Linked DNA regions of Homo sapiens. The protein of the gene in region 2 interacts with the protein of the main gene of each other region in a biochemical or structural test. Each region holds a gene or a part of one and is shown on either strand. Other genes may lie near its edges.

Region 1 (5,677 bases), on a different chromosome or scaffold from region 2:
TATATATGGGTTATGAAACTATAATAATTAGATATGCAAGAAAGAATACTAAATATACCAGCTTTCAAGGATAAAAGGGATCAAATGACATTCTTGATAACTTCATAATTCAAATCAAGGGATTTATTCAGGAAGGCAAAAAATAGGCTGCCTTACAATACTATTAATCATGAACTGGTAATGTATATAAAGAAATGAAGCATTTGACATTTGTTATTTCACAGTGCAAACATATGGCATTTGACATTTGTTATGATTTCACAGAATGAACATGTAACACATAATTATTATAACATAAATTCCTATGTCCTTCTAACTGTAAACTTTTGGTTTAAAACTGCTACAGACTTCGTGCTTCCTGGGTTTGAAATTACCTCCATAATATGTTTTACATGAATAAGAAAGTGGATTAGGACTATAATCTGACTATGAACAAAATTGAGATAATACAGACTTGAATAATTATATTCCAATAGTACCTTATGTGTTTATTTTTATTAGCTATTTTATATTTTATTCCCATATTTATTTTGTCAATGTAGAATTGTCTGGCACTTACCACATTCTCAAGAGCAGGAGATTATAAAGTTTGTCTTCAGTATTGTTTCGTGGTACAGCCATAAGAAAGGGCTGACCAAAAAGTGAAGAACCAGTATGGTGGGTATAACTCGAGTGTCTGAATTTTTCTCTTAGGCAAACAGGAATAATCACGTGCTCTGTATCTTCTGTCCTATTGATGTTAATTTCAAACCTACAAGGACAAAACTGACCATAAACTCTCAAAATTTTATGTTACTTCTATTAATTTTTTTTCAAGTAATATTTTGCACAATGAGTTTTATACTTACACATAAATATCATCCCGTTCCATAATACTACTAAGGTTTTCATCCATAGCGAATATTCTGTGAAATCTATGATTGTATATATCAGTAACTATCATCTAAAAGGAAACGAATTTCTATTAAGCTGGTTTTACAGCACTGAGAAACTAAATACCAACTTATATACTTCAACCCCAGAAACATCTTACCTTATCTGCAGGTATTCCTGACAAAGCAGACAATGCTGTACAAAGATCTAATATGTTTCCAATTTTGGGGACAACCACTTTGTACTAAAAAACAAAAAAAATTGTAATGAATTTATTATTTTGGAAAAAAAATTCAGTAAATGAGAGTGACCTCATGGTTGCTATCTCACATTCATTTGGCATTTGGATTAGTGTTTGTCTCCAATCTTGCCACTATCCTGGGTCCTGTGTGACAATGCCCACATGGATAATTTGTCCTAGTTTTATCATTCCTTGGCTCCTCAATTCAAAGACACTTGCATTAATTCAACCTCAGTCAACTTATTAGATCCTGTCATTACTTGAAACTGCTCCCACTTTTGCTATCTTTTTTTGTTTGTTGTTTAGAGACAGGCTCTCACTCACTCTGTTGCCCAGGCTGGAGTGCAGTGGCATGATCTTGGCTCACCGCAGCCTCAACCTCCCGGGCTCAAGCCATCTTCCGAATTCAGCCTCTTGCGTAGCTAGGACTACATGCGTGTGACACCATGACTGGCTAATTTTTATTTTTTAGAGACAAGGTCTCATTATGTTGCCCAGAATGGTCTCAAAATCCTGGATTCAAGTGACCTTCTGCCTCAGTCTCCCAAAATGCTGGGATTACAGGACTGAGCCACTGCACCCGGCCCCACTTTTAGTATCTTAAACTCGGGTTACTGTCTAACCACTACTTCTTGCTTCTCCTGGAAATTCATTCTTATCTCTTCTTGTCTTGCACAGAGATTTCTATTCCTTTTAACTCTTGTTTTCTCCCAGTTTACCAGCTCCCTACTGTCTTCTAGCCCTTCCATCCAGGCCCTACATGCTTTATCACGAACCTTTAATGTCTTTGTTACTCAATTCTATTCATTCCACTCTTGCTAAACTTTCTCAGAGCTGTTCACATGTGCTGAAGAGAATTTCCCAATTTTAGAGGCTGGTGTGCTACAAATCCACAGTGCCCAATATCAATTGATCCTTTGACAGTACTCAGAAATAATTCTGCATATCACACATGTGGTTATTCTCTCATTTATCTCAATAACTATTTAAAATCTTCATTGGGCTGGGCCCAGTGGCTCACGCCTGTAATCCCAACACTTTGGGAGGCCAAGGCAGGTGAATCGCTTAAGCCCGAAAGTTCGAGACCAGCCTGGATAACATGGCAAAACCCTGTTGCTACAAAAATACAAAAAATTAGCTGGGCTCGGAGGCGCACACCTGTAGTCCCAGCTACTTGGGAGTCTGAGGCGGGAGAATCCCTTGAGCCCAGGAGGCGGAGGTTGCAGTGAGCTGAGATCACACCCTAATGTACTCCAACTTGGGTGACAGAGCAAGACCCTGTCTCATTAACAAAAAAAAAAAAAAAAAAAAAAAAATCTTCACCATTCTTTAGGCTTCCTATTTCACTACTGCTCCCTTAATATCAGCAGAATACCTATTTCATCTCAAAAACAGAAACTACTGGGTGGGAAAATCTCCAACTTCCTGTTCTACTAACTTCTTTGAATCCACATAGGTACTTTTCTGTCTCTTGCAACACATGGAAAGAAAGATGTCTCTCTTCTTATTCAAAGCTAACCTTAGCGTCTATGTTCTAAATCCCATGCTCTTCTGCTTTCTCTGGGACCTAAACCAAGCAATTATTCTTTCTTCCATTTTATCTCAACTCTTGCATAAGCATTGGAATATAAAGTCTCTCAAAAAACAAGGGTACCTCATTGCTTTCCCTCTAATTATCTCCCCTTCTCCTCTATTTTATAAATAACTTTATTAATGATATCTATATTATCATAACTTCCTTATCTCCCATTTACTTCTCAACCCTCTTGCTGGCTTGTCTTCGCCTCTTTATTTAACTTGTTTCCAAGGTTGCCAATAATGTTGTACAACTTATCAGTCTTTATTTTATTGACCTCTTTGTAATATGACTGCTGACCACTTTCTCCTTAAAAAATTCCCTTTCCTTATAACACGACTACTTTTAATTCTTTTCTATTGCTGTGATCATATTCCTCTTTTGAAGTTCTCCTACATTGTTCTTTAGAGTGTTGTCTTTAGCCTTCTTCTCAATTTTATATGCTCTCCTTGGAAGAGGCAACAGTGTCTCCTGATTTGCTTTGGCCAGTCCTGGATTAGCCTGCTATCCTAGTATAATTATTAATGACAGTCCCTTCTATTTTCAAGAGTTCTTGTTTAGATGATAAATCACGGGGTCACCTTAGCCTTAAGTAATCTCATCCTTCTAAAACACTATCATTTTCATAGAGCTGATTGTCCAATTTATAGCTAAAGCAGTCTCTCTCCTTTGGTCTAGATACACAAATTCAATGCCTACTGGATATCTCTACCTAAGTGTTCCTCATGCATCTGTAAGTCAGCATATCCAATACTAAACACAGGTTTGGGTCATGTTAGGCCACCACGTTCAATACTAAAATGGATTCCTTCTTCAACTTGTTCTTCCTATATATTCCACTAAAACAGCACTGCTGTCTCCTCTTTTCCTGTCAAGTAAACTTGGCATCATCTTTGAATATACTTACACATTTTCACTTCCTACATTCAACTGGTTCTTCAAACTGCCATCCTGACAGAGTTGAAGTGTTTGTCATTTGTCTGTCGTCTGATCATTAAAAGCTTCTTACCTGGTCTTAGTACTAAGCCTTTTCTAACTGATCTCTGTGCTACCCAGAATCATCTTTCTGAAACATAATTGTGGCCATATAATATCTATACTTAATAGTCTTTAATGGCTTCCCTAGTTTTTAGGATGAAGTTCAAACTTCCTATACTGGCATCAAAGTTCTTCGTGATCTAGCTCCTGCTTGCCATATTAACTACTGTAGATTACAGAAGTGGGCCATGTCCTCTTCTCCCATAAGTTCTTTGTACATGCCATTATCTTGGCCTATAATGCTTTTATTTCTAGTTTTCACCTGCTTATAACCTAATTGTCCTTCAGAATTTATCACAGGCCTCATAACCAGTTTGGGTAGGTTACTCTGTGTTCTCTTGCAGCACCCTGTCAGAGCAATTTTCACACTGTATGACAAGCTTCTTGAAGAACAAGGACTAGAAACACCATTATATTTCTAGCACCTTGCACAGCATAAGAGCCTAAGATATAATATATATTCAATATTTTTCCTAATAAGCTTCCATGACCTAAATCAACTTCAATGACGGGAAAACTCAACAAATAGGGAAACTCAGCTAATTTCACTTTTCTTACAAGCTGGTCAAAGCATAGTGTTAATGAAATGAGGTGATCATTTTGTATTTGAGTTGTTACTGCCTCTAAATGGAAAAAAGGAAAAAAAAAAAACACAAAACACAAAAACAAACGAATTTCTCTGTGCTAACCATGGCTCTAACCTCCGCAAATTTATATTATTGGTCACCAAATGAGAAAAGTGATAAGTCAATGAAATTCACATTGCTGGAAAAATAATTTAGAGCCCAATTTATGGAAGAGCACTTATCATATACCTTATGGACTAATGTGTAAATTAATGCAATTTGCCACTATTGATATAGATTACCTTATATTATTGGCATGGGAGAATATTATCTCTAACAAATGTGCTGTAGAGAAATAAAACATCTACATTTATTTTTTGTTGCAGTAAATTTATACTTATTATTCTACGCTCTCTTGCTCCATTACACTCATTGGTGTATATCTGCAAAGTTATAAACTAGAGAGGTAAGGATGTGGTTTGGCACTGTTATAGTTTCTCACCATTGAAAAGAATGTTGACAATCTTGTACTTATAAACGAGTGAATAAGTGAATATCTAAAGGATATAACTTTAAAAATGTGAACACATATTCCCCAGGCCAAAAGTAAAAGCAGGTCTTTATTGGCTCTGCTCACAGATAAGGGATAGTACTTAGCACTCTCCAGTGAAATACTGATATGAGGGCATTGTGTTCAATGAGTTCATAAAGAAAACATAAAGCAGCAGAAAAACAAATTGCTTAAATTTGCATAACTGAGTACATACCTAGTATCTACTAGACTTTAATTACTTTGAATAAAAGGACTGTGTGTTTATGAACACTACATATACCCTGTCTTTGTTGACAATAAACCCAAATACATCCCTGAATGGTAAGATCATAATTTTGTTCAAATATAGCTTTCATATAGACATCGTGACTATTATGCACTAACAAACTGAGCTATTTGGCTAAAAATTTACAGAAAACAATCTTCTAAAGCAGGAATCATATCTTTTTTGTTTAGCCAAAGAGCTTTATACTTAGTAGGTGCATAGTTAAGTATCTTGATGAATAAAATTTTTGAATACTTCTTGTGCATTAATATTTACCAGCCACAAAAGCTGGAAATACAAAGGTTTACAAGGTCTCTGTCTTCAAAGACTTGTAGTCTAGGGATAAAAGATAAAAGTAAGCCAAAAGTTATAACAAAATTAGTTAAGTGTTAGAATTTAGGGAAAGAGAGGTAGAAAAAGAAGAAGTTACTTTCACTGGGATGGGTCAAGTGTCAGAAGAGGATTAACTGATTAATAAATAAGGGAGAAAAGATAGTGCTTTACCCACAAAATATAAATAATCCAATTATAACACTAGGTAACGGAATCAGGCAGACAATTTGAC
Region 2 (5,677 bases):
TAGCCTCCTAAGTAGCTGGGACCACAGGTGCCTCCCACCACACCTGGCTAATTAAAAAAAAAAAATGTGGCCAGACGCAGTGGCTCATGCCTGTAATCCCAGCACTTTGGGAGGCCGAGGTGGGTGGATCACCTGAGGTCAGGAGTTTGACACCAGCCTGACCAACATGGAGAAACCCAGTCTCTACTAAAAAAAAAAAAAAAAAAAATACAAAATTAGCCGGGTGTGGTGGTGCATGCCTGTAATCCCAGCTACTCGGGAGGCTGAGGCAGGAGAATCGCTTGAACCCAGGAGGCGGAGGCTGCAGTGAGCCGAAATGGCACCATTGCACTCCAGCCTGGGCAACAACAGCGAAACTGTCTCAAAAAAAAAAAAATTTGTAGAGATGAGGTCTCATTATGCTGCCCAGGCCGTCTTGAACTCCTTGGCTCCAGTGATCCTCCTGTCTAGCCCTCCCAAAGTGCTGGGTTGATAGGCGTGAGCTACCTCACCTGGACTCAATCTGGATTTTTAATGAATGGAAATGCTTAAAAATACTAATTTACAATGGATATTAACGATAATTGTCTATTTTATAGATGTATAAGTATTTATTTTATGGGATTAAAATATGTATTAGAGTTTTAAATTAACAAGGATTTTATATGGCATACAGCAATTCTCAAAACTTCAGGGAAAATAAGCCTGTTGGCTATTGACTTAAGTAGTACTCCAGATAAATCTGTTTTACTGAAAACATACTATTCCAGAATTGTGACCTTTACTCATTTTTTTCTAATTATTCAGTAAGCATTCCTTAAAAAAATAAAAAGAGAGAAACAGCCTCATTCAGGTATGTTTTTTAAAAACATTACAAAGTAAGTGCAGATTATAAAAGTCAGTTGTTTCTAAATGCTATTGCCTTCCTCACTCGCTTTGGCTACGATTTTAAGTTGTACCAAACTACAAATGCTCAGAGATGCATCTGTACTTCTCTAAATGGATACATGCCCATGTGCCAGCAGATAGCAACAAAGAAAGTCCAAAAAACAAACACAAGTTAATCACAGGGCATCTTCCTAGAGCTTTAATTTGACCAACTTTAGGGGAAAGAGCTAAACCACTTAATCATTGACTTAAAACATTTAAATCAGCAACTAAAAATATTTTAATTATTAACATAAACTTGGGCATAAAATGCAAAATCAGCATGAAATTTAAAAATAAAATATGAGAATCTCACAGAACTTTTGCAACTGTGGCAGGCAATTTTTTCTGTTTCATTCAGTCTCCTCTGTTGGCTTGGATACTTCAGGGGAACAGTCTAATAATTACCTATAGCTGATGTGTTTATGACATAAACCTCAAATTCTTAGGAGTCAGATTCCCTAATAATAAAGGAATGAGCACAAGCTTATGCTTTAGCAGCTTAAATGTGTACAGGAGAGAAACATTTATTAAAGTAAATTTATTCATTTGGTTAAAATATATTTATTGGTGTCTTATGTGTCCCAATTTTGCCTGCCATAATCAGACTGAAAATTGAACCTGGTTACTATATAATGGATTACAGACATCATCCAAGAGTTAGTTTTTTTCTTTCTCTCTCTCTCTGTTTTTTCTTCTTCCCCTCCCCTCCCTCTCTCCCCTCTCCCCTTTCCCTCTCTCTTTCTTTGAAAACGTCTCACTCTGTTGCCCAGGATGGAGTGCAGTGGTGCAATCATAGCTCACTGCAGCCTTTAACTGATGGGCTCAAGTGATCCTCCCACCTTGGCCTTCCAAGTAGCTATATGCACTATACGTGCATACCACCATGTCTGGCTAATTAATATTTTTTTTTATAGAGGCAGGGTCTCACTATGTTGCCCAGGCTCATCCCAGAGTTTTCTATTGTCTTCACACTTCACATCCAATTGACAAGTCCTGTTGATTCTATAGCCTAAATGTTCTAAATCTGTCCAATGCTTTCCATCTTCACTACTATCACCTTAGTCAAATCTATCACCATTTCTTTCTTGACCTAGCCTAACAGGTCTCCTATTTCCACTACTGACTGTGCCAATAAATTCTCCATCAAAATAATTGTTTAAAAATTTAAATTAGGCCAGGTCTGTTCCCTGCTTAGGAGTCTCTAGTAGCTATCATACTCAGAAAAAAATGAAAATTCCCTACCCTAGTTTACAAAACCCTACATGAAAATGTGGCTTCAGCTATTTCTCCAACCTTATCTCCTATTATTTCCCTGCTTGCCCACTAAGACCCAGCCACAAAGACTTTCTTTTTACTCCTCAAATACACCAAGCTTTTTCCCTCCTGAGGGTGGTACTAGCTCTGCCTGGACCTTCTAGTAATTAGCTTCTTCTTTGGACAGATCTTAGTTTAAATGCCACTAAGTCACAGAGGTCTCAGGGCAGCCAAAACAAAGAGGCCACCAGTTACTATCACTCTAATTTCAATTCCTTGAATAGCACTGATTACTATGTGATAGTTTTTTAATTTATTTGTTTATTGGTTCATATTCTTTTTTCCTCCCCCTGCCTCTTCTCTTTCCCTCTCCAAAACAAGAATGTAAGCTCTATGAAAATAAGACGACGAGGGGCCTTGTCTGCCTTGTTTGCCATTTTAACCCCAGGACCTAAAACAGTGCTTACCAGGCAGGTACTCAATAAATAATTGTAGAATAAATGAATAAGTAATTGAGTATACAGCTCAACATAATATAAATCAAGTTCGGCAGAGAAATGTTTACATTTAGAGTCTGGGAAGTGAAAGCGCCTTTACTATCACTTCTAATCTAATTTCCTACTCCATGCAAGAATTCTTCATTTCTGCTCTGAAAGAGAAAGGTGCAGAACCTTGACTTAAAACTAGGGGTGTGGTATTGGAGCAGAAGTAGATAAATCAATAGCATAAAAAAATCATATGTAGATTAGAAATTTTAAATATGATGATGGAGTCTTTACAAATCAATGAGAGAGTCTGTTCTCATAGTGTAGTAGTAATCATGTTTGCCTGACAAATCAGGAGAAATTATGGATTATTCCAGTGTTTTCAGCGTGTTCACGTGTTCCACTGAACATTATGTTCCCATAGCAGTGCTGTCCAATAGCACTTCTTGTGACGGAAATTTTCCTATTTTTTGAGATGGAGTCTCACTCCGTCGCCCCGGCTGGAGTGTAGTGGCGCAATCTCGGCTCACTGCAACCTCTGCTGCCTGGGTTCAAGCGATTCTCCTGCTTCAGCCTCCCGAGTAGCTGGGATTACAGGCAACTGCCACTGTGCCTGGCTAATTTTTTGTAGTTTTTTAGTAGAGACAGGGTTTCACCAGCTTGGCCAGGCTGGTCTTGAATTCCTGACCTTGTGATCCACCCACCTCGGCCTCTCAGCGTGCTGGGATTACAGGCATCAGCCACTGTGCCTGGCCCGGAAATTTTCTTTTATCTGCAAAATGTTCAATACAGTAGCCACTAGCCCCTTGTGGCTATTGAGTTCTTGAAATATGGTCAGTGTGACTGAAGAACTGAGTAATTTTAATTAACTAAAATTTAAATAGCCACATGTGGCTAGTGCTAGTATACTGGACAGCTCAGTTCCACAGGCTTTCATAGGTATTTCCTGAAATACCTATGAAGTGAGATTACATGGTTAAAAAAAATAGCTCACACCTGTAATCCCAGCACTTTGGGAGGCTAAGGCAGGCAGATCACCTGAGGTCAGGAGCTTGAGACCCGCCTGGCCAATATGGCAAAACCCCATCTCTACTGAAAATACAAAACAAGTTGGATATGGTAGTGCATACTTGTAATCTCAGTTACTTGGGAGGTAGAGGCAGGAGAATTGCTTGAACCTGGGAGGCAGAGGTTGCAGTGAGCCGAGATCACCCCACTGCACTACAGCCTGGGCGACAGAGTGAGACTCCATCTCAAAAAAATAAATAAATAAAATAAATAAATAAATAAAAAAGAAAAAAGATTACATGGTTAATTAAATTAGGAAATGCTAACTCCTAATGCACACACACACACTAGAGGCTAACGAGAGTTTGGCGATAAAAAATTTTAACTTTTTTTCGTATGATCTTTTCCCAAACTTATTTAACCACGAAATAGTCTTTCTTTTTTTTGGAGGAATATCTATCAGTACTTTATTATCTGTATATTGAAGTATGGGATATGCTTGCTGGATTTTTTAATAAGTAGCATTGGCACAACTTGTTAATTATTTGATTAAAAAAGTAAAGAGTTTTACCTCATACCTTACATCAAATTATATTTTAGATAGAATACAAATTTAAATGTTAAAAAGTAAAAAAAAAATTGTTAGAAAATATTAGTTAATACACTTACATGACTAGTCAATAAACACATGAAAAGACACTGGACATCAGAGTAGTAATCAAATAAATGTAAGTTAAAATAAAATTTCATTTTTTTACCTGTCAAGTTAGCAAAGGTGAAGAAAACTAATAATAATTAGCATTGCTGAGAGATTATGGGAAATGAGTAAATGATGCCCCATTTTGATAGGACTGTCATACATGCAAGCTTTTTCAAGGGTAATTTGCCATTATATTGGAATTCTTAAGAAATTTATATATGTAGGTATTATACTTTAAGAAATTTAACTTAAGGGAGACATTAACAATGTGTGCAAAAATTCAACAAGATATTCACCATGGCAGTATTTGTAACAGAAAAACTGGAAACAATCTGGAGTTCAAAAAAGGACTGGTAAATTAAACAACAGGGTTTCCACACGATGGAATAGTTTTCAGCCATTAAATATAATATTGTCAATACAAATTTATTAAAAGAAAAATGTTCATAATATGCTTTGATATAAACATCTGTATATGATAAAAATATACAGAAAAATAATCAAGAACGATATCCATCAAGTGTAAATATCATTTTAAGAAATAGGATTAATACTTTTTTGCCTTTTTCCTTCTACCTTTTGATATTGTGCTTTAATTTTTCCCCCTTTTTTAATAATGAACACATAATTAGTAAATACAGTGATTTCCATATTGAAGAGGAATAAAAGATGTACCAGTTCCCACTCTTATAATGACATAAAATATTTCCATTTTTTCAACTTCTGAGTCTTACTTCTGTCCTCTGGATAAAACAGGTAAATCTAATCTCTTTTCCATAAATGTTCAAACACAAATATTTAAAAATAATTTGATGTTTACTAAAATTAGAAGATTATGTCCAACTTCTAATGTCTGATTCAACTTGCACTTTCACAAAAAGAATCACATCCAAGACCAAATATGCTTTTTATGGCAAAAATATTTCCAGGAAGGAAGTTCATGGCTTTTTTTTGGGGTTTCAATTTCCCCCCAATTAAAACGTTTCCTTTTAAAACTAAGCCTAAGCCATCTGGAGATCTGTATAATGTGGCATGTAAGAATGACCATCAAGATTTATTATATAACCCTCTTGAGTACACAGATTAGATTTTACTCATCCTTCTAACTTCAGTGCCTGACAAGCTAGAGTTTTAATAAATAAATATTTTTCCTGAGTGAGCAAAGTACAGAAGTGAAACATATCTTGAAAAACTCAGGAAAACACAACACAGTTATAAATGTAAGAAATATTCTCAATTTTATAAATGAGCTATGAATTTAAACAACATTCCTGTAACATCAATATTTCAGAGAGGAATTCAGCTCTCAAAGTACAAAACC
Region 3 (6,309 bases), on a different chromosome or scaffold from region 2:
TGACACCCCGATCCACATACAAATTTAGTATGCTCTTCATTACAGCTGGATCCTCTTGGCTTCTCCCCTTTGCTCTAGGAGTACTAGAACAGATCTGAGACTCCAACACAAACCCAGATACATAAATATTATTCCCCATATGAAGACATCATGCAATCCCTTTTATCCACATGGAGTCCCCCCAGGTCTCCCACCCTTACTGTATCCCTTGTGAACCTCCACATACTGGGGCATTCTCCGACTCTAGCTCTTCTTCCTTAGTGAAAAGGTTGAAACAATCCCGCAGAGACACCTTGCCCCCAGCAAATCCTTTCTGGGGGAAAAGGGGAAGAAAGGTCAACATGTTCTGAATTTCCTTTTCCAACTCTTCTCAATCAATCCAGGCTTCAGTTCTGCTCCAGAAACCCACAGGGTTCCCGCCCACACTCTGGGGGTGGGTAGGCTTGGGTCACAGAGCCCCTGTCCTGTCCACCCCGGAATCCTCTGGAATCCCACCTTGGGGATGGGCAGGGACAGGTCACAAAAAACCTCGAAGGTCGTGGAGCGATACCCACAGGCCTGGCACTTGAGACAACTTTTCAACTGGCCCACAAACAGGTCTAGACAGAAGCACAGGGACAGGAGAAAAGGTCATTGTTGGATGTTATGAGATGATTTCTTGGATTTCCATCTCTTCCTGCCCCTTTGCTTGACCCTTCCTTTCCCACTACCAACACTCCTAATCAACTCTTCACACAGCTTCACATTTGCATCATCCAGTCTTGTTCCCATACCCCTTGATAGTATCGATTTTTCCCCCCAAGCCTGTACCCCCCTCACACACTAATTTTCCCTCATTGCTTTGCCCCATTCCATACCCACAATCTTGCTGTCCTCTCGCTCCAGGTAACGTTTCCACATTAGGTTGGCTCGGTCATCATCACTACCACAGATCAAAGGAAGTGGGGAGCACCCATGAGACAGCAGGAACACTGGGCACCCCCAACACCCACTGAAACAACCTACAGAGCCCTACTCCCCATCCACACCCCTGCTCCTTCCCTAAATTTCAAGGAAAAGTCAAAAGAATAATGCCTCAATGAACTTTCTAGGGAAATCCGAGGTGAGAGGAAAAGAAAGGAATGTACATAAGGGAAGAATATGCTGTCTTCCTCTACCTGTAAATGAATTATCCCCTTCTTCAATTTGGTGACATCCCTAGCATGATCTTCTGCCTCCATCTGCTCCCTTAGACTCCCCCTCTTCCTTCCTTCCTTCTACTTCTATGTTGCTTCTCATACTATTTTCTATACTAAAGGGTTTCCCTGGACCCTACATCTTCAATCTTTACTAGTTTAGTTCTATGAAGTGTGAATGATGCTGATAAACTACGGGGAAAGGAGGTAGAGGGAACGACCCTTACCTTAACTCAGGTTCTTCTAGCAGAGCCCCTCCTCGGCGGGGTGGAGAGGGAACTGGACCATTGGCAAGTATCGGTGGAGCCCGGCGGCCTCGGCGGTTGATTTCAAGGTGTAGCCGCTCCATGAGGAGCTTCAGGAACTCTTGGGCATCCTGCTGGCTACAGCCAGACAAAGAGTATGGGCAACTGACTCCTCTCCTAGTCCACAGACACTATTCCCTGCCCAGATATTGGTCCCCACTTCCTGGATGAAGAACATCTCAAGGCTCAGAACAATGCTGCCAGGGCCCTTGCTTGGCCCTACCCCCAGACATGGCCAGAGAGAAATCCCATAGCCTCCAGCTCTCCCACCTGTATCCAGAGAAGGAGGGAACATATTTCTGGAAGACAGCTCGGAATCGAGTAGGATTCACAGCTTCGCAGGAGTCAGGGTGCCAGAGGGCACCAATCACATCTGCAAAGGCTGTTGGGATGGGAGTGGGGAAGGCAAACAAAGGTTAATGTCTGGAAGAGGCAAGCAAAAGGTGGCTCAGAGGGTAGAAAATAACCTTTAGGAAAGTAGGCACTGGGAAAAGTAGATACAACTGCCAGATTTAAGGGTTGGGGGCCACCACCAGTGGCAGATGGACCTGCAAGTGGTTGGGGAAAAAGGGACTTGAACAGAGGGAGCAGGAGTTGTTGCCCCACCTTCAGTGAGCTCTTGGGCTCGGCCTCCTCCAGGCACCTCTTGCCGGAAGTCCCTTCTCAGACAGAAGTCCCGAAGAGGTCGAGTGCTGCTCAGACACTGCAGCACAGCATTCAGGAAGCACTGGGGAGCAGTAGGGACACTGCTGTTATCTCTCCAGACCACTGCCCAGGAAGCCTTAGAAGAGCTTCAGAGCTCTCCTTCCACATGCCTTCCCCAAGCTCGTGGGTTTTCCCCACCCCCAGCACCATTTCACATTCCTTTTAGAGAGGAAAGATAGGAGAATAGCTCTCACCGTGTTTCCCAGGTTTCGAAGGCCAACATGACCAGAGCCCAGAAGGAGTGTGTGATGAGCCTGGAAGGTCAGAGTACAATCGGCAAGTTCCTATATATCCTACCTGGCACTTTAACCTTTCAACAGCATGCTGCCCACTGCCTCCCCCATCCCATGCATGTTTCATCCCCAAACTCTACCCTATTCCCCTCACTAGGTATTCTAGTCTCCCTACCTCACTGGTCATGAGCAGTAAGCCCATCACAGCTGAATGTACCACGGACTCAGCCATGGCTGTCCCACCTGTTGCCCACTTACTCCTCTGCTCAGCTAGCTGACGTTGCAGCTCCTGGGGCAACTCCCCCAGCACCGGCATGGTTGCCCAGCTGCTCACCACTCCCACCTTTCTGCCCCCAAAACCCCCTCCTGCCCCCGTGGCCCCTTCTTGCCCTTCTCCTGCTGGCTCCAATTGCAATCAGCCTAGCTTACTTAGCTCAGAAAATGTGCAACCACGTTTGCTAAGATGTTCTGTGCCTGCCTCTCTTTAGCTCCAGAGATTAATTAGGCCTAGGCAGAGTCCCAGTAGAGAAGGTGCAAGCAAGGGAAAGGAAGGGCCTGGGGACCCAAAGAAGAATTCTAAATAGTTGGGGTAATCCCCTGGGGACCGAAATGGCACACCATGCTGAAGAGTCACCAACAACCCAAAAAAGGGTCTAGGAGGCTCAAGGGTATTTAAGCAAGGGAGAGGCATGTCCAAACTGCTGTAATGAAGGGCTGAGAAAGGAACTTCAGGGAAATGGGGGACAGAAAAGGCAGAGGATGGCAGGAAAGCACAGAGGAACATGGGCATGAAGGCCATGTGTGTGGCAAGTCCTCACCATCTTGTCATCAGAGTAGAAAGGCTCAGAGGACCGGGCGGATATCATGTGGAAGGAGCCATGGGAAGCAGGGGGCTCTGTCCGTATGCTGAACAGGGTAGGGGGTCCAGGAAAGCCCCCTAGGCGGCGGAGAGAAGTGCTACGTCTCAAAGTGGGTGGCTCAGGCCGGAGGGCCAAGCGGCTCAGTGCAGCCCCAAGCTCTCCGGTGCCACGGTGCCCTCCCAAGGCAATCCCCATTGGACGCAAGTCCCCACTGCTCACAGACTTGGAACGGGCTAAGTTGGTCCGAGATGGGAGAGGCAAAGCCACTGTTGGGGGTGGTGAGCCAGGCAGGGGAACCCCATGATCTGCTCGAAGGGGGCCTCTGGGACGAGGGCCTGAGGTCCGTCCCCGTCCCAGCTCCAGTTTCTTGAGCCGTTCATCAGGCAGACCTGGCCGGGGAGGCAGAGGTCGTAACATGGGGTTTGGCCCAGAGGCTGGGTTTCTGCGCTCCTTGCTGCGGGCCCTGGGGGCAAATGGTAGCTTGGATCCCACTCGGGGCTGGATATTAACAGGTGGCTCTCGGGTACGGCCCAGGCGGTGCTCAGAGGCCTGGGGCATTGTGGACACCACAGGCTGGACCTGGGAGGAGAAGAGAGTGTCAGCATTTGAATATGGGGGGAAATGGGAACCCAGGCTGCTGTACTGAACCCTGCCACACTAATTTTCCCTTATTGCTTTGCCCCATTCCATACCCACAATCTTGCTGTCCTCTCATTTCCACATTAGGTGGTTGGCTCAGTCATCACCACTACCACATCAACGAAAGTGGGGAGCAGTATACGCACTGAGGGCAGGAACCAGATCTATCGAATCAGCCATCGTATCCCCAGTACCTGGCATCGTGTTTGGTACAAAGTAAATACTTAGTATCTATTGGGTAAACAAATGAATGAAAGATAAGCAGCCCATGGCTTTGACCCTTTCTATACTCCCGACCCCTCCCTGCAGAACACATCTTTACTGAAAAGCCAGTGATAACTCCTATCTCGGCTCTAACGTAACATGGGACCCCATACCCGGCTAGTAAAGTAGGATGTGCCTCGGGTCACTTAAGACCCTAGCCAAATGGTAGTGTAGATGCAAGAATAACAGCCCAAAAGACAGCCCTCCATCCTCGAATCCCTGCCTCTCTGGGCTGCAAATGAAGCAGACTATATGGGTGACTTACGATCCATTCCCTCCCCCACCTCCGACCTCCGACATGGTGTCGAGGTTCAGAAAGCAGTAGTCGGGGATGGAGGACGAACAACTCCTTGACCCTTAATCTCTGCACTTCTCCCACCACAGCAGGGCTTTAGCCGGGTCCGCCCCCCTCGAGGGCAGAAAGGCCGAGACCGCTGATTGGCTACGGAATCCGGCGGCGTATTCCCCGCGGTCCAGGGATGCTGTCCCTCCAGCCCAGTTCTCCCAGGCCCCGCCGGGCCCCACGCGCCTTTGTGGAGAGTGTCCTCTCGGGTCTGGAGCAGTCTTCCCTCTGCGCCCCCCCACACCCCGCCATGCCATAACGCCCCGGCCCGTACCTGTCCCCCAGTGAGGCGGCGGGAGAGGCCAGCCAGGGCCAGGCCCCAGTTCAGGGCCACCCCCTACTACCCCCGTGCAGCCCCCCCGTGGGCCCGGCTGCAGCTTTAGCCGCAGCCGTTGCCCAGATCGCTCCCGCCGCAGGGGCCGCCGCCATCTTTGTTGGTCCCGCCCGGCCACCGGCCACCGGCTTCACCGTCTCTCAAAGCGCCTGCGCATCCACACCCGAACTCCTCCCACCGGTCCCTTGGCGCTTGCGTGAGCCCGCCCCCACGGCTCCGCGATCGACACCATGGAAACGCAGCCAAGTTTAGGGTCGCTGGTTCTCAACGCTGCCCAGAGAGGTCTTTAATCCATGACTCCAAAGCAAGTCCCTGAGGTATAGGGTGCCGTCGCCCCATCCTATAGCCCATAGGGATGGAGATCTGACAGTCGTAGTATGGCCGCGAGGCTTACAGCACAGATCCTTCCCAAACAGCAGGGGCGCAAGTATGGCAAACTGCAGGCCTGGGTCCAGCCCGCAGACCAGTGGAGAAGCATCTAGCACTTCACAGAGGGCTGGGAAGATCCCTGGAGGGCGGGAAGTGCTGGTCCGGCAAAACCACTTCTTGCAGGCTAACACGGTAGGGCAAAGCATGGCTCACCACTAAAGGACAAAGGTAGATCTGAGCAGCAGGGGGAACAGTCAACATTTCATTCCCACTCCTGACCAGAGCATCCCCTATTTCCGACTCTTTCCCAACCCAACCCGGCGTAGCTGTTCATGTGCCTCAGGTTTCAGCCCACTTGCCCTCTGTTAACAGCTCCCAATGAGAACCACAGGCTACCAGAGGAAGCAGCTTTTATTGATGGGTTATCTCCAGAAACCAGAAAGACTATATGTACTCACTTTCAGTTACCCCCGTGCCTCCAGAATCGCATGTTGCTCCACCTGGGGGCGGATATAAATTACCTCTAGATTGTCCAAAGCCCAGTCTTTCCCTTCCCTGTGCAGCCTTAGAAACTAAGTAGCAGTACTGTTTGGTGTGTGTTTGTTTCTTCCCCAGCAATGCCTACTGCAGCTACTTAGTAACAACTAGAGGTGGAGGGTGTCCGGGGAAGCAGTTAGATGAGTTAAGTGTGATGCACAGGAAAATAGTATCGTAGCCTATCAAAGGTCCCTCTGCCCTGCCTCAGTGGCTTGATTCTTCATTGGTTGCATTTCTCTTTGTGTTGGATGACGCCCTTCTGAATCAGATCAGGGATTTCCACTGCCAGCCATGGACCCAGCTGCAATACAAGGAAAATCCTGTGAGATTACTACCAGTCAATGCTTCTTGTTCCATTAGAAGCTCCTTCCTGGAGACAGATTCTGGGGGAACATGCTTAAGGGACATCACTGTTATTCCTTTTATTCTTAGCTGCTTTTCTTGTACTGCTCAGGGCCTAAGTCCCTCTTTCTCCTTTTATGCCAAATACACAAAACTTACCCCCAGAGCCATGAGATGAGCTAGTCCAAATTTGGGCACATTCC
Region 4 (5,677 bases), on a different chromosome or scaffold from region 2:
ATTATATTTTAAACAGCTCTTGAAGGCTAGCATAACCCCGATACAAAAAAGACCGAGAAATACCCACATACCAGAATGAAAAGACTACAAACAAGTGTCACTTGAGAATAGAGTTGTAGAAATCTTAAGTAAAATATTAACAAGCCAGATTTCCCAGTGAACTAAATAATAATTCTTCAAAACATAGTATAGCTTTCTAGGAACATAAGGATAACCCAGCAGTACCAAGTCTGATGTAATTTACTACATTAACAGAGAACCATGTACCAACTATGTGACCTTTTTGGTAAATGATGGGAAAACATTTGATGAAGGTCAATAGCTTTCTCTTAACGCAGTTTACCCAAGGCCAGTGAGAAACTCTGAGTGTTTGATTTTTTTTTCCTGTTTATTGCAATAAACAGGAGTATTTATTCCTGGTTTAATGTGTAATTTAACAATTGCGATCAGATCCTCTCCAGAAATGAGAGGGGACTTTAAATTGGAAGGCCTCTGATGACTTGGTTTCATTTTAGGGGGCTGCATGTTATGACTATGGAGATACTCCACTGGGTCTTCATTCAGTTTGTTTGACAGAACACTTAGTGTCCTTTTTTTTTTGAGACTTAGTCTTACTCTGTCGCCCATGCTGGAGTGCAGTGGCACAATCTCGGCTCACTGCAACCTCTGCCTCCTGAGTTTAAGTGATTCTCATGCCTTAGCCTCCTGAGCAGCTGGGACTACAGGCGTGCCACCACACCCGGCTAATTTTTTTTTTTTTTTTTTTTAGTAGAGACAGGGTTTCACCATGTTGGCCAGGCTCGTCTCGAACTCCTGACCTCAAGTGATCCACCCGCCTCAGCCTCCCAAAGTGCTGGGATTACAGGTGTGAGCCACCACACCTGGCCTTAGTGTCCTTTTTATCCTTTGTCTTTTCATAAATGTCCCTCGTCAAGTCTACTGATACTAGTTAAGGCCACTGATGCAGACAGAATGGCAGAGACATTTCCACAGCACCTCTTTAATGAGCGTGTGTTGGGTGAGTGGAGTCAGGGAGGCACTAAGTTAAACTGCTCCAAGGGAAGAGGAACACCCCTGACCCAAGAGTGCCAAGAATAGGGTTGGGTTTTCTGAACCAACTTTTCTAAAGTTGGAGACACCTCTTCAGAGTTTCTGTGGTGGCTGATTCGTTTTATATGAATTAGGGGGTCTTGTTTATAAAGCAGTCTTGTAGAAAAGACCTGTACAAAAATTCATCTACCTTTAATTCACCTTTGAATTATTATTTGTTCATAGAATGAATCAGTTGTTAAAGGACAATCATCTCTTGTATATACAACTACAGAGGGCAGCAGTTTAGTAGGAATTTAAACCCCTTCATCATCTTTAATGACTGGGCCATGAAAGGGAATCTATGTGCCTTTTTATTTCTCCAAAGTTAAATTACAGCAGACTAGAAAGCAATTGGTAAAGTGAATTTCCTTTACTGAAGTTTAAGTGGATTATCTTAAAGGCAAACTTCTTCAGAATGTTTTTGGAAATGTTTTATAAATATCTCCTGTTGGTTTTCACCTTGGATATTCTAAATGACTACTTCATAATCTGTTCTTCAGTGTTGAGGTTACAGTATGAGATTGCCAGTTTGCTGTAGGTAAGGAAAGTCAACCTTCCCTCTTCCTCTGCACTAATCTGATGAGAACTGATCTTTTGAATGCTTGAAGCTGCATTCTGGCTAAGTGGTGCTTGTTTAAACGTACTGATGTTTTAAAACATGGTATCTTTTTAAAATTTTCAGTTCCAAGAACCCAGAGGAGGCAGAACTAGAAGACACACTCAATCAAGTGGTAAGTGCTTCATGAGCATACCCATTTCCAGTAGCTGTGTATTTCACAAGCTGTTTGTAATGTTATTTGTAGATGGCCTCTGAAATGTGAAAAGTAATAATCATTGATTTTATTTTGAATCTCTGGTTTTACTTCCTAAATTGAGTTACTACTTTTAGCATTCATACTTTTCTCATTAATACTCAGTCAGTCCAACTCACTGAATTAAGGGACTCACAAAACTTTCAAGACTCTGGAGTGGAGATTTTGCCATCATAAACGTTGGCGTACAGACCTGCCCAAAGCCAAAGGCACATCTTGGCTCCTGGCTTGTGGCCGGTGACAGTCAGCTCTGCACTGTTGGCTTGTGTGTGTGCTGGTTAAGTGTGTTGTCTCGGTGGCTTTGCCAGATGGTTGTCTTCAAGTACATAGAAGACAAAGACGTATTTCAGAAGTTCTATGCGAAGATGCTCGCCAAGAGGCTCGTCCACCAGAACAGTGCAAGTGACGATGCCGAAGCCAGCATGATCTCCAAGTTAAAGGTGAGTTTCATCTTTTCCTGAAAAATCCCAGCTTCTGAGTCATTATTAAAACAGCTCTATGGCCGAGCGCGGTGGCTCATGCCTGTAATCCCAGCACTTTGGGAGGCCGAGGCGGGCAGATCACGAGGTCAGGAGATCGAGACCATCCTGGCTAATATGGAGAAACCCCATCTCTGCTAAAAATACAAAACATTAGCCGGGCATGGTGGTGGGCGCCTGTAGTCCCAGCTACTTGGGAGGCTGAGGCAGGAGAATGGCATGAACCCGGGAGGCAGAGGTTGCGGTGAGCCGAGATCACACCACTACACTCCAGCCTGGGCAACAGAGTGAGACTCTGTCTCAGAAAAAAATAAAAAAGCTCTTAGTCTCTCCAGGTTATGAGGCAGGCAGAGGAGTTTGTGCAGTGGTTTGTACAAGAAGCTCTGCCACTGCTCTTCTGAAAGCCTCCCACAACTATCACTCTACTCTCGTTGGGCCCCGGTGCCTTCCCAACCCCTTCCCCACCCCACTGTGGGGCTTCCATCCTACCCAGGCCTGGCTGGGCTCAGCTCACCATCTGTGGGGCCTCTCCTGCCTCCCACACCTTTAGCCTTGCAGCACATTCACACTTCCACACTGTGCTGGCCTGGAGCTGAGTGGAGGTTTTGTTTGCTCTGGGCTTGGTTACTTTGCTGTCACGCAGCCCTTCCTCTGCCACCTCCTTTGCGTGCCTGTGTGTCGGCGCTGTCGAGTGCTCTTATCTGACTTGGGACATACTTTACTTTGGCCCCAAATTATGTAGGTATCTTTGTCAGCGTGGGCTGCCATGACGGAATACCATAGACCAGGTAGCTTAAACAACAGAAATAGTTTCTCACAATTCTGGGGGCCACAAGTCCGAGATCAGGGTGCCAGCTGATTCGGTTCCTGGTGCAGGCCCTCTTCCTGCTTTGTAGGCAGCCACCTTCTTGCAGTGCCTCACGTGTCAGAGAGAGAGTGCAGAGCTCTTGCACATCTCTTACAAGCACACCAATCCCATTGTGAGGCCCCATGCTCAAGACCGCATACCTCCACACAGCATCACGTTGGAGGTTTGGGCTTCAACATAGGGATTTTGGGGGCACACAGTTCAGCTTCTGGTAAGAGATAGAGACAGATTATTTCATCATTGTATTCTACCAGTGTCAGGACACCTTGCTCTTAAATGCTCACAAATTGTGTATGAATTGTGTGTGTGAACACTTCACTGTGCAACATAGAGTTGTGGGGTTTTTTGACAGTGTATTAATATTAATCCATGCATATTTGTACTGTAAAATATAGCAAAATGTTACTAGCTTTGCTAGTAGTTCCATATAATTAAGTATATATTGTATACTCTGATTTCTCTAAGATTCCCTTGTATACATTTGTATTTTTGTACAAATTAATAAGACAGTCATCTGGGTTCTTCTCAGCAAGCTTGCGGGTTCGAGTACACCTCTAAACTTCAGCGCATGTTTCAAGACATTGGCGTGAGCAAAGATCTGAACGAGCAATTCAAAAAGCACTTGACAAACTCAGAACCCCTAGACTGTGAGTATCCGTGTGTCTCTATGTTGTGTTTACAGGCAGAGTTCTCTGTAGCAAATGAAGAAATGACAAAATATTAGGTGAAGATGGGAGGGGCTTTGTCAGAAATTCAAGAACTAAGAAGCGGGAGATTCCTCCCAAATGCCCAGCCCTCCTCCCCCGACTCCCGTGTGACATTAGGAGATGACAACCCTTGAAGTGGTGTCAGCTCTACTGGGGCAAGGTCACCACCTGTTGGGATCTGGGGAGGGACTCACAGGCGTGGTTTTGTCTTGTAAACCTTAGCTTGGATCCATTCTAGCATTTATTTTAATGTTCACTTGGCCTGCATAGGTAACAGTCAAGCTAAAGACCTGTGGCTTCAGACTGGGATTAGGGATCAGTACAGGCAGGTGCAGGTGATTCAGTTCTCCAGGAGAGGCAGCTGGGCTGGTATTTTAGGGCCTTGCATAGTAGTAGGATGGCGGATTTATGCTTACATCATCTTTTGATCATCTTTGTCTTTTTAAATGAAAAATGGAGAATTTTATTTTTCCCAAATCAGAATGACAATTCTATTGTAAAACTGGACAGTTTTGCCAGTGGGCTTTTTAACTATCTGCGAAGATGAAATTACTGTTATAATTTATAGACCATGTGTGGCGTTTCCCAGTAATAAGTGAAACATACACTATAATGAAGTTAGCGGTTTTCTCCTGCTTGTGAGTTTGCATGAGTCTGGGGCTGTGATGATGCCGGGCCTGGCAAGCACAGGCGTGGCTTGAGTGGACTGAGTGATTCAGGACAGAAAAGGAAAGCAAGGGAAGCAGGGCAGGCGTGTGACAGCAGAATTCCGAGGTGGAAGCAAAATGAAGACTCTCACTCTTTGGAAGAAAAGAGTATCTGGCTCTTGCACTTTTTGCTAATTTTAATTGAATAAAATGTTCAATTCTTAATTTTATATTCAAGCAGGATTTTTATTTAATGTGCTTTTTAATAAAGAGCAATCCACATTCATCTGAAATGATTGAATTTTTCAGTTTATAAACTAATTAATGTATTCCAGAATGTTCACTCTCCCCTCTCTTCCGTCCCACAGTGGATTTCAGCATTCAAGTGCTGAGCTCCGGGTCCTGGCCCTTCCAGCAGTCTTGTACATTTGCCTTGCCGTCAGAGGTAAGGATGGGTTTGTCTGCCATCCCATTAGTGCTAAGTGGAGGGTGGGGCAGGGCAGCCTTCACTGTGGAAGGGGACAGGCCTGCAGATGGCCTTCCTGCTGGCTGGCTGCATCACGGTGAACCATGGGGGCAACACTCAGGGAAGAGCCCTGTGCAGTGGGGCAGGTCTGGATGTCTAAAGGTGGGCTGTCTGTCCCAGCTCTACAGACATGTTTCCTTATCTTGTAAAGCAGAACCTAATTAGTTGTGTAATGAACACCTCGATGGACCTGCTGGTCTTGAAGTACAAACCTTTTTTAAGATTGTACCTTCCAGTGCTTAAAGTGCTTTACAAGAGAGGCAGACACCTGGCGTTTGTATTTTACTTTTATGTAAGCACTGACTTTGTACTGTAAGCTTGGAACAGTGGGCTTTACTTAGAAACGCTGCCTGTAGGATGTGGTGAGATCTGTATTCCATATAATGCTGTCCTTTTATCTAGTTGGAACGTAGTTATCAGCGATTCACAGCTTTCTACGCCAGCCGCCACAGTGGCCGAAAATTGACGTGGTTATATCAGTTGTCTAAAGGAGAATTGGTAACTAACTGCTTCAAAAACAGATATACTTTGCAGGTAAGATCACAT
Region 5 (5,677 bases), on a different chromosome or scaffold from region 2:
ATTATGAGCGATTATTTAAGAGGGGAGAATGCATACAATGCACTGATCAATGAAAGGCGCTTATGAAACGGCAATTATATACACTAAGCAAAAACATAAAATTCCTATTTTGTATAGCTGTTATATTAATAATAAACTTATCTGTACATTATCAAATAAGTTATACATACCTACTTTATTATTGTAGAGAGTCATATACATGAAACCATATATTCTCTTCCTTAAGGTATTAGGAAAGTTAATTTCTATTATCCCCAGTTTTTTACCTACTTGCTGACTTTAGTTGAACTTGACCTCCACAGGGTCTGTACCAGCACCACCAACTGCAGCTCTCTCCAGGTGTGCAGGAAGGGCTTGTTATGGGCTTGTGATGAGTCTGGGCTGGGTCCGCAGAGGGGGCCACCAACTGTCACCCAAACTCTCATGTGCCTCTCGTGGGTCTGACCTGGAGGCATGTGGCAAGTTGCTGCAGCACTAACTCCTGAATAGAAAAGGAGATCATCCTGGGATATATAAGGCCAAATTGCATTCACCCCTACGTTACAGTCAGTCCCGTATAAAAGAAAGCTGGACTGTAATCCCAGTACCTGGGGAGGCCGAGGTGGGTGGATCACAAGGTCAGGAGATCGAGACCATCCTGGCTAACACAGTGGAACTCCATCTCTACTAAAAATACAAAAAATTAGCCGGGCTTGGTAGGCACCAGTAGTCCCAGCTACTCGGGAGGCTGAGGCAGGAGAATGGCATGATTCCGGGAGGTGGGGCTTGCAGTGAGCTGAGATTGTGCCACTGCACTCCAGCCTGGGTGACAGAGCGAGACTCCTTCTCAAAAAAAAAAAAGTTTGAGAGCAAAAAGAAGCTTCTTTTAATTTTTCAAAGATTGTACATGCACAGCTTCAGAGGTGTGATGAGGCCTTCTCTTCCAGGGGAAGAAGGAATTCCAGGTGTCCCTCTTCCAGACACTGGTGCTCCTCATGTTCAACGAGGGAGATGGCTTCAGCTTTGAGGAGATAAAAATGGCCACGGGGATAGGTACGAAAACTGCAGAGTGCATAGCTCCATGAGTTGTTCTTAAAGCATGTATTTGTTTTAAGATAAGACATAGACTTGGTAGCATGATTGGTTTACTGTTGTTGAGTCTCATTCGTTTAACGCCAGCCTTTGCCTGCATTTGCTTCCCATTCAGAGGATAGTGAATTGCGCAGAACGCTGCAGTCCCTGGCCTGTGGCAAAGCACGTGTGCTGATTAAAAGTCCCAAAGGAAAGGAAGTGGAAGATGGAGACAAGTTCATTTTTAATGGAGAGTTCAAGCACAAGTTGTTTAGAATAAAGATCAATCAAATTCAGATGAAGGAAACTGTATGTATAAACTTTCTCTTTTTACTTATAGGGGGTTTAGCAGGGAATCATTTGTTTTTGTAGTAATGTTTTTGGCTGTTAGAGGCCTGAAGCACATTTCTACAATAATCCAATTTCACTATGTAATGTTTATAAGAGTACTCATTTTCCTGTCGCTTTCATTAACTTCACATTCTCAGTAGGAAAGAAAATCAGAAAAAAAGCCACTTAATGTTATTCCTATTCACAAAAAAGTTGTGTGCTAAGCCAGAACTCCCCATGGTCATAGGGTTTCGAAAATTATCCACACTTTCTATGGTAATAGAATCTGATATGGTTCACTCTTGGTGTTGTACATTCTGTGGGTCTGGGTAAATGTATAATGTTATGTATCCACCATTATAGGATCATACAGGACAGTTTCATTGCCCTAAAAATTCTCTTATGTTCTGTCGCTGTATCCCTGTCTCCCTCCGAGCCCCTGGCAACCCCTGACCCTGTTACTGTCACCATAGTTTTGCCCTTTCCTGAATGCCGTACAGTTGGAGTCATAGTGTATATAGCCTTTTCAGATTGGCTTCTTTATTTATTAGAACGTATTTGAGGTTCACCGTGTCTTTTCATGACTGGGTAACTCTGCTTTTTGCACTGAAGGATTCTCCGTTGTCTGGATGCATCACAACTTATCCCTTCACCTACTGAAGGACATCTGGTTGTTTCCAAGTTTTGGTGATGATGACTAAAGCTGCTATAAACATTTCTGTGCAGGTTTTTATGTGGACTTAAGTTTTTAACTCCTTTGAGGGTGCACCTTTTATAGTGGGCAAAAGTGAGAAGGTCTATCAGTTCTTTCTCCCGAAGGTAACCACTACTGCCCTTTTTGTTTGTGGTCACAGCCTTTTTCTGTGGTGTGAGTGTATGTAAACTTTTTTTTTAGTGGGATCACTAAGCCAGGCACAGTGACATGCACCCATAGTCTCAGCTACTCGGGAGGGTCGCTTGATCCCGGGAGTTTGAGGCCAGCCTGAGCAATGCAGTGAGACCCCAAACTCTACAAAAGAAAAAACACCTGGGATCACTGTACATATGGCACCTGTCAGGGCCTTCCTGTAGCCAGTTTTCGTTGCTGATCGCAGTCTTCTCCTGGCCAGGACTTGTTGCAGGAGCACAGTGCCGGTTGTGTAGACCCACCAGGGCTGGCAGTGCCCTCGGCCACAGGCACTAACATTCCTCCACTGCCCCTCCTGAAAATAAGATTACGTTCAACACCCTGGCACAGACATTTCTGTGCACTTGTTAGATTGTTTCTTTAGTGTGATTCTTGCTCTGGAGCTGCTGGGTAAAATAATGTGTACTTGTCTTAGTTTGCTCTTTTCCAAGTTGAAGTCTGGCAGATTTCACCAGAGCACAGTGTCTGCCCCCACCTCCACCTGTCCTTCGCTCACCCTGTTCTGAGCAGCCCAAAGATAGTTTGTTGCAGTTTTCATTTTGATTTCTGATTCTTTACAGCATCTTTCTACCACTCAGTAGTTTATACAAATTATATAATCTTTCTAATGCTCAGTTTCTCATATTTAAAATAGACATACTACTACCTCAAGTTGTGAGAATTAAATGAATCGTTTAGAAAGCTCTTTGCCACACACCTGTAAGCACTTCATACATGTTGATGCTGCTCTTTTTATGCTTAGCCATTTGTATTTTTCTTTTTCTAATTGCTTTTCAAGTCATATGCATTCATTATAATGTTTTTTCTCTTACTGATTAGTAGGTTTTCTTTATATATTAAGGATATTAATGCTTTGTCCCTTTTTTTTTTTCGTTTTTTTTTTTTTTTTTTTTTTTGCATTTCACTCTGTCGTCCAGGCTGGAGTGCAGTGGTACAATCTCGCTCACTGCAACCTCCGTCCTCCGGGTTCAAGCGATTCTCCTGTCTCAGCCTCTCGAGTAGCTGGGACTACAGGCATGTGCCACCACACTCAACTAAGTTTTCTATTTTTAGTAGAGACGGGGTTTCACCATGTTGGCCAGGCTGGTCTCAAACTCCTGACCTCAGGTGAGTCACCCATCTCGGCCTCCCAAAATGCTGAGATTACAGGCGTGAGCCACCATGCCCAGCCTGCTTTGTCATTTTTGACAGATAATTTTGTTGTTTTTATTGGTTTTTTTTTCACATAACAGTTTTTAAGTTCTCAAATATAGTCTCCTTTTCTTTTATGGTTTCTGACTTAACGTGTAATGCTGTATTAGGCCATTCTTGTATTACTATAAGGAAATACCTGAAACTGGGTAATTTATAAAGAAGAGAAGTTTAATTGGCTCACGGTTCTGCAGGCTGTACAGGAAGCATGGTGCCAGCATCACCTCAGCTTCTGACGAGGCCTCAGGAAGTTTCCAGTCATGGTGGAAGGTGCAAGGGGAGCAGGTGTCTCACGTGGCAAAAGCATGAGCAAGAACAGGGAGGGAGGTGCCCCACATGTTTAAACGACCAGATCTCATCACCAAGGGGAGGGCCCAAGCCATTCATGAGGGACCTGCCCCCACCCACCCGGTCCCATCTCCAACACTGGAGACCACATTTCAGCATGAGATTTTGAGGGGACACATATTCAAAACCATATCATTGGCCTAAGAGAGAAATTCCCTTAACCAGAGTTTTAAAAAACATTTATACTATGTTATTTTTCTAGAAGTTTTTACATTTAAATCTTTCTTTTCATGTTGCAGAAATTATTTTAGTATCTGAAAACAGTCTAACTGCCCCCATCCTTTCCAAAACCAAATTTAAAATATCATCCTTGAACAAGTTATTTGAATTATCACCTTATTATGTATCAAATTCATATAGGTCAGTTTCTCAATTCTCTTCTATAAATTCTGTGTCTATTTCATAGCCAGCCATTTTTTTTGTTTTGTTTTGTTTTGTTTTTTGAGACAGTGTCGCCCAGGCTGGAGTGCAGTGGTGTGATCATAGCTCACTGCAGCCTCAACCTCTTGGGCTCAAGCGATCCTCCCACCTCAGCCCCAGGCATATGCCACCACGCCCAGCTAAATTTTTGTATTTTTTGTAGAGATGAGGCCTTGCCATGTTACCCAGGCTGGTCTTGAACTCCTGGGCTCAAGCAGTCTTCCTACCTTGACCCCCCAAAGTGCTGGGATTACAGCCGTGAGCCACCGTGCCCGGCACCAGGTTCTTTTAATTAATGTAGCTATTCCTATAACTTTATTCTTCCAATGAACTTGACAATAATTGTATCACGCCTTTGCTCCCCCAAATAAGAACATTGACATTTTTAATCCATATTGCATTAATTTACAGAGCTTTTATCTTTATCATATTAAATCTTGTGATTCATACATATGTGTATATATGTAAATACATACAAATCTTTTTCTCAGAGCTTTCTAGTTTTCTTCTGTAAGTCTTGCATATTTCTTGCTAGTCATAAATTTTCATTCATTCAACAAATACTTATTGAGCATCTGTGGTGGCCCAGGTCCTCTGTGAAGCACTGAGAATTCATCCATTAACAATAAAGAATAAGTCCTTGTTTCTAGGAGTGTTCAGTCTTTTCCAGCAGAGAGGTAGCAGAGGATCACACACATTGACTAACTTGTAAGAGTGGAGGAAAATGTTAGGATAGAGAAGTGCAGGAGAGTCTAATTAAATACTGTCGTCAGCCAACGCTTTCCTGAAGAAGTGACTAGCTTTGCTCAGGAACTGAAAGAAGGCCTCTGGCTGCAGCATCGTTGCCAAAAGGGGAAGCTGAGCCAGACAGGCCTGATCAGGGAGCCACAGCTGGACCCTCTGAAGATGGCTCAGATCCATGAAGCATTTGGAAAACCACTAGAGTTTTAAGCAAGACAGGCTAATGAAATGCTGATATCTTATAAAGGGGACCTTTTTTCTTTACATTTCTGACGGTTTTTATCAGAATGTATGTATTAATGCTATTTGTCTTTGTATATTTATTTTATTTCCAGCCACTTTACAAAACTCTTTAGCTTTGAAAGTTTTTCTGTTGATTTTCTTGGATTTTCCAGCTCATCTACAAATAATGATCGTTTTGTCTGCACCTTTTCAATATACCTCTTTAGTCTGTTCCTGTATTGCATAGTTAGAACCTCTAAAGTAATGTTTTTAAGGAATAGCAGTGCAGCTGAGCTTCCTAATTTTATCTCTAGTTCAGAGGATGTTAACTTTTTGGGGGTCATGGATCCTGTTGAAAATGTGATGAAAGCTTGGAGTCTCTCCCATCCTGAAGCATACTTGCCTCATATGTATGCACAGACCTTCCCCCAGCCCTCATTTCAACTGCAGATCCCCATCAGGTTCCTG

Evidence for each region.
Region 1: of the proteins of SENP8 (region 2) and USP15, one has a biochemical effect on the other in vitro, tested with the Homo sapiens proteins (one large-scale study listed by BioGRID).
Region 3: of the proteins of SENP8 (region 2) and USP21, one has a biochemical effect on the other in vitro, tested with the Homo sapiens proteins (one large-scale study listed by BioGRID).
Region 4: of the proteins of SENP8 (region 2) and CUL1, one has a biochemical effect on the other in vitro, tested with the Homo sapiens proteins (2 studies listed by BioGRID).
Region 5: of the proteins of SENP8 (region 2) and CUL4A, one has a biochemical effect on the other in vitro, tested with the Homo sapiens proteins (one study listed by BioGRID).

The regions. Positions count from the first base shown.
Region 1 is NC_000012.12:62,384,871-62,390,547, reverse strand, and holds part of USP15 (ubiquitin carboxyl-terminal hydrolase 15), read right to left. Parts: intron 1,118-5,677; coding exon 1,034-1,117; intron 944-1,033; coding exon 849-943; intron 766-848; exon of another isoform or gene 752-765; coding exon 560-751; intron 1-559. UniProt on the Homo sapiens protein: Hydrolase that removes conjugated ubiquitin from target proteins and regulates various pathways such as the TGF-beta receptor signaling, NF-kappa-B and RNF41/NRDP1-PRKN pathways.
Region 2 is NC_000015.10:72,124,068-72,129,744, reverse strand, and holds part of SENP8 (sentrin-specific protease 8), read right to left. Parts: intron 1-5,677. UniProt on the Homo sapiens protein: Protease that catalyzes two essential functions in the NEDD8 pathway: processing of full-length NEDD8 to its mature form and deconjugation of NEDD8 from targeted proteins such as cullins or p53.
Region 3 is NC_000001.11:161,158,168-161,164,476, reverse strand, and holds the start of USP21 (ubiquitin carboxyl-terminal hydrolase 21), read right to left. Parts: upstream 4,978-6,309; 5' UTR 4,799-4,977; exon of another isoform or gene 4,777-4,798; coding exon of another isoform or gene 4,711-4,776; exon of another isoform or gene 4,112-4,710; 5' UTR 3,971-4,111; exon of another isoform or gene 3,858-3,970; coding exon of another isoform or gene 3,837-3,857; coding exon 3,237-3,836; intron 2,440-3,236; coding exon 2,380-2,439; intron 2,208-2,379; coding exon 2,087-2,207; intron 1,863-2,086; coding exon 1,751-1,862; intron 1,559-1,750; coding exon 1,403-1,558; intron 923-1,402; coding exon 858-922; intron 600-857; coding exon 496-599; intron 314-495; coding exon 227-313; exon of another isoform or gene 221-226; intron 1-220. Other genes in the region: UFC1 (ubiquitin-fold modifier-conjugating enzyme 1), read right to left, coding at 5,985-6,065, 6,266-6,309. UniProt on the Homo sapiens protein: Deubiquitinates histone H2A, a specific tag for epigenetic transcriptional repression, thereby acting as a coactivator.
Region 4 is NC_000007.14:148,784,777-148,790,453, forward strand, and holds part of CUL1 (cullin-1), read left to right. Parts: intron 1-1,774; coding exon 1,775-1,823; intron 1,824-2,212; coding exon 2,213-2,344; intron 2,345-3,780; coding exon 3,781-3,898; intron 3,899-4,973; coding exon 4,974-5,050; intron 5,051-5,533; coding exon 5,534-5,665; intron 5,666-5,677. UniProt on the Homo sapiens protein: Core component of multiple cullin-RING-based SCF (SKP1-CUL1-F-box protein) E3 ubiquitin-protein ligase complexes, which mediate the ubiquitination of proteins involved in cell cycle progression, signal transduction and transcription.
Region 5 is NC_000013.11:113,253,767-113,259,443, forward strand, and holds part of CUL4A (cullin-4A), read left to right. Parts: intron 1-926; coding exon 927-1,032; intron 1,033-1,186; coding exon 1,187-1,359; intron 1,360-5,677. UniProt on the Homo sapiens protein: Core component of multiple cullin-RING-based E3 ubiquitin-protein ligase complexes which mediate the ubiquitination of target proteins. As a scaffold protein may contribute to catalysis through positioning of the substrate and the ubiquitin-conjugating enzyme.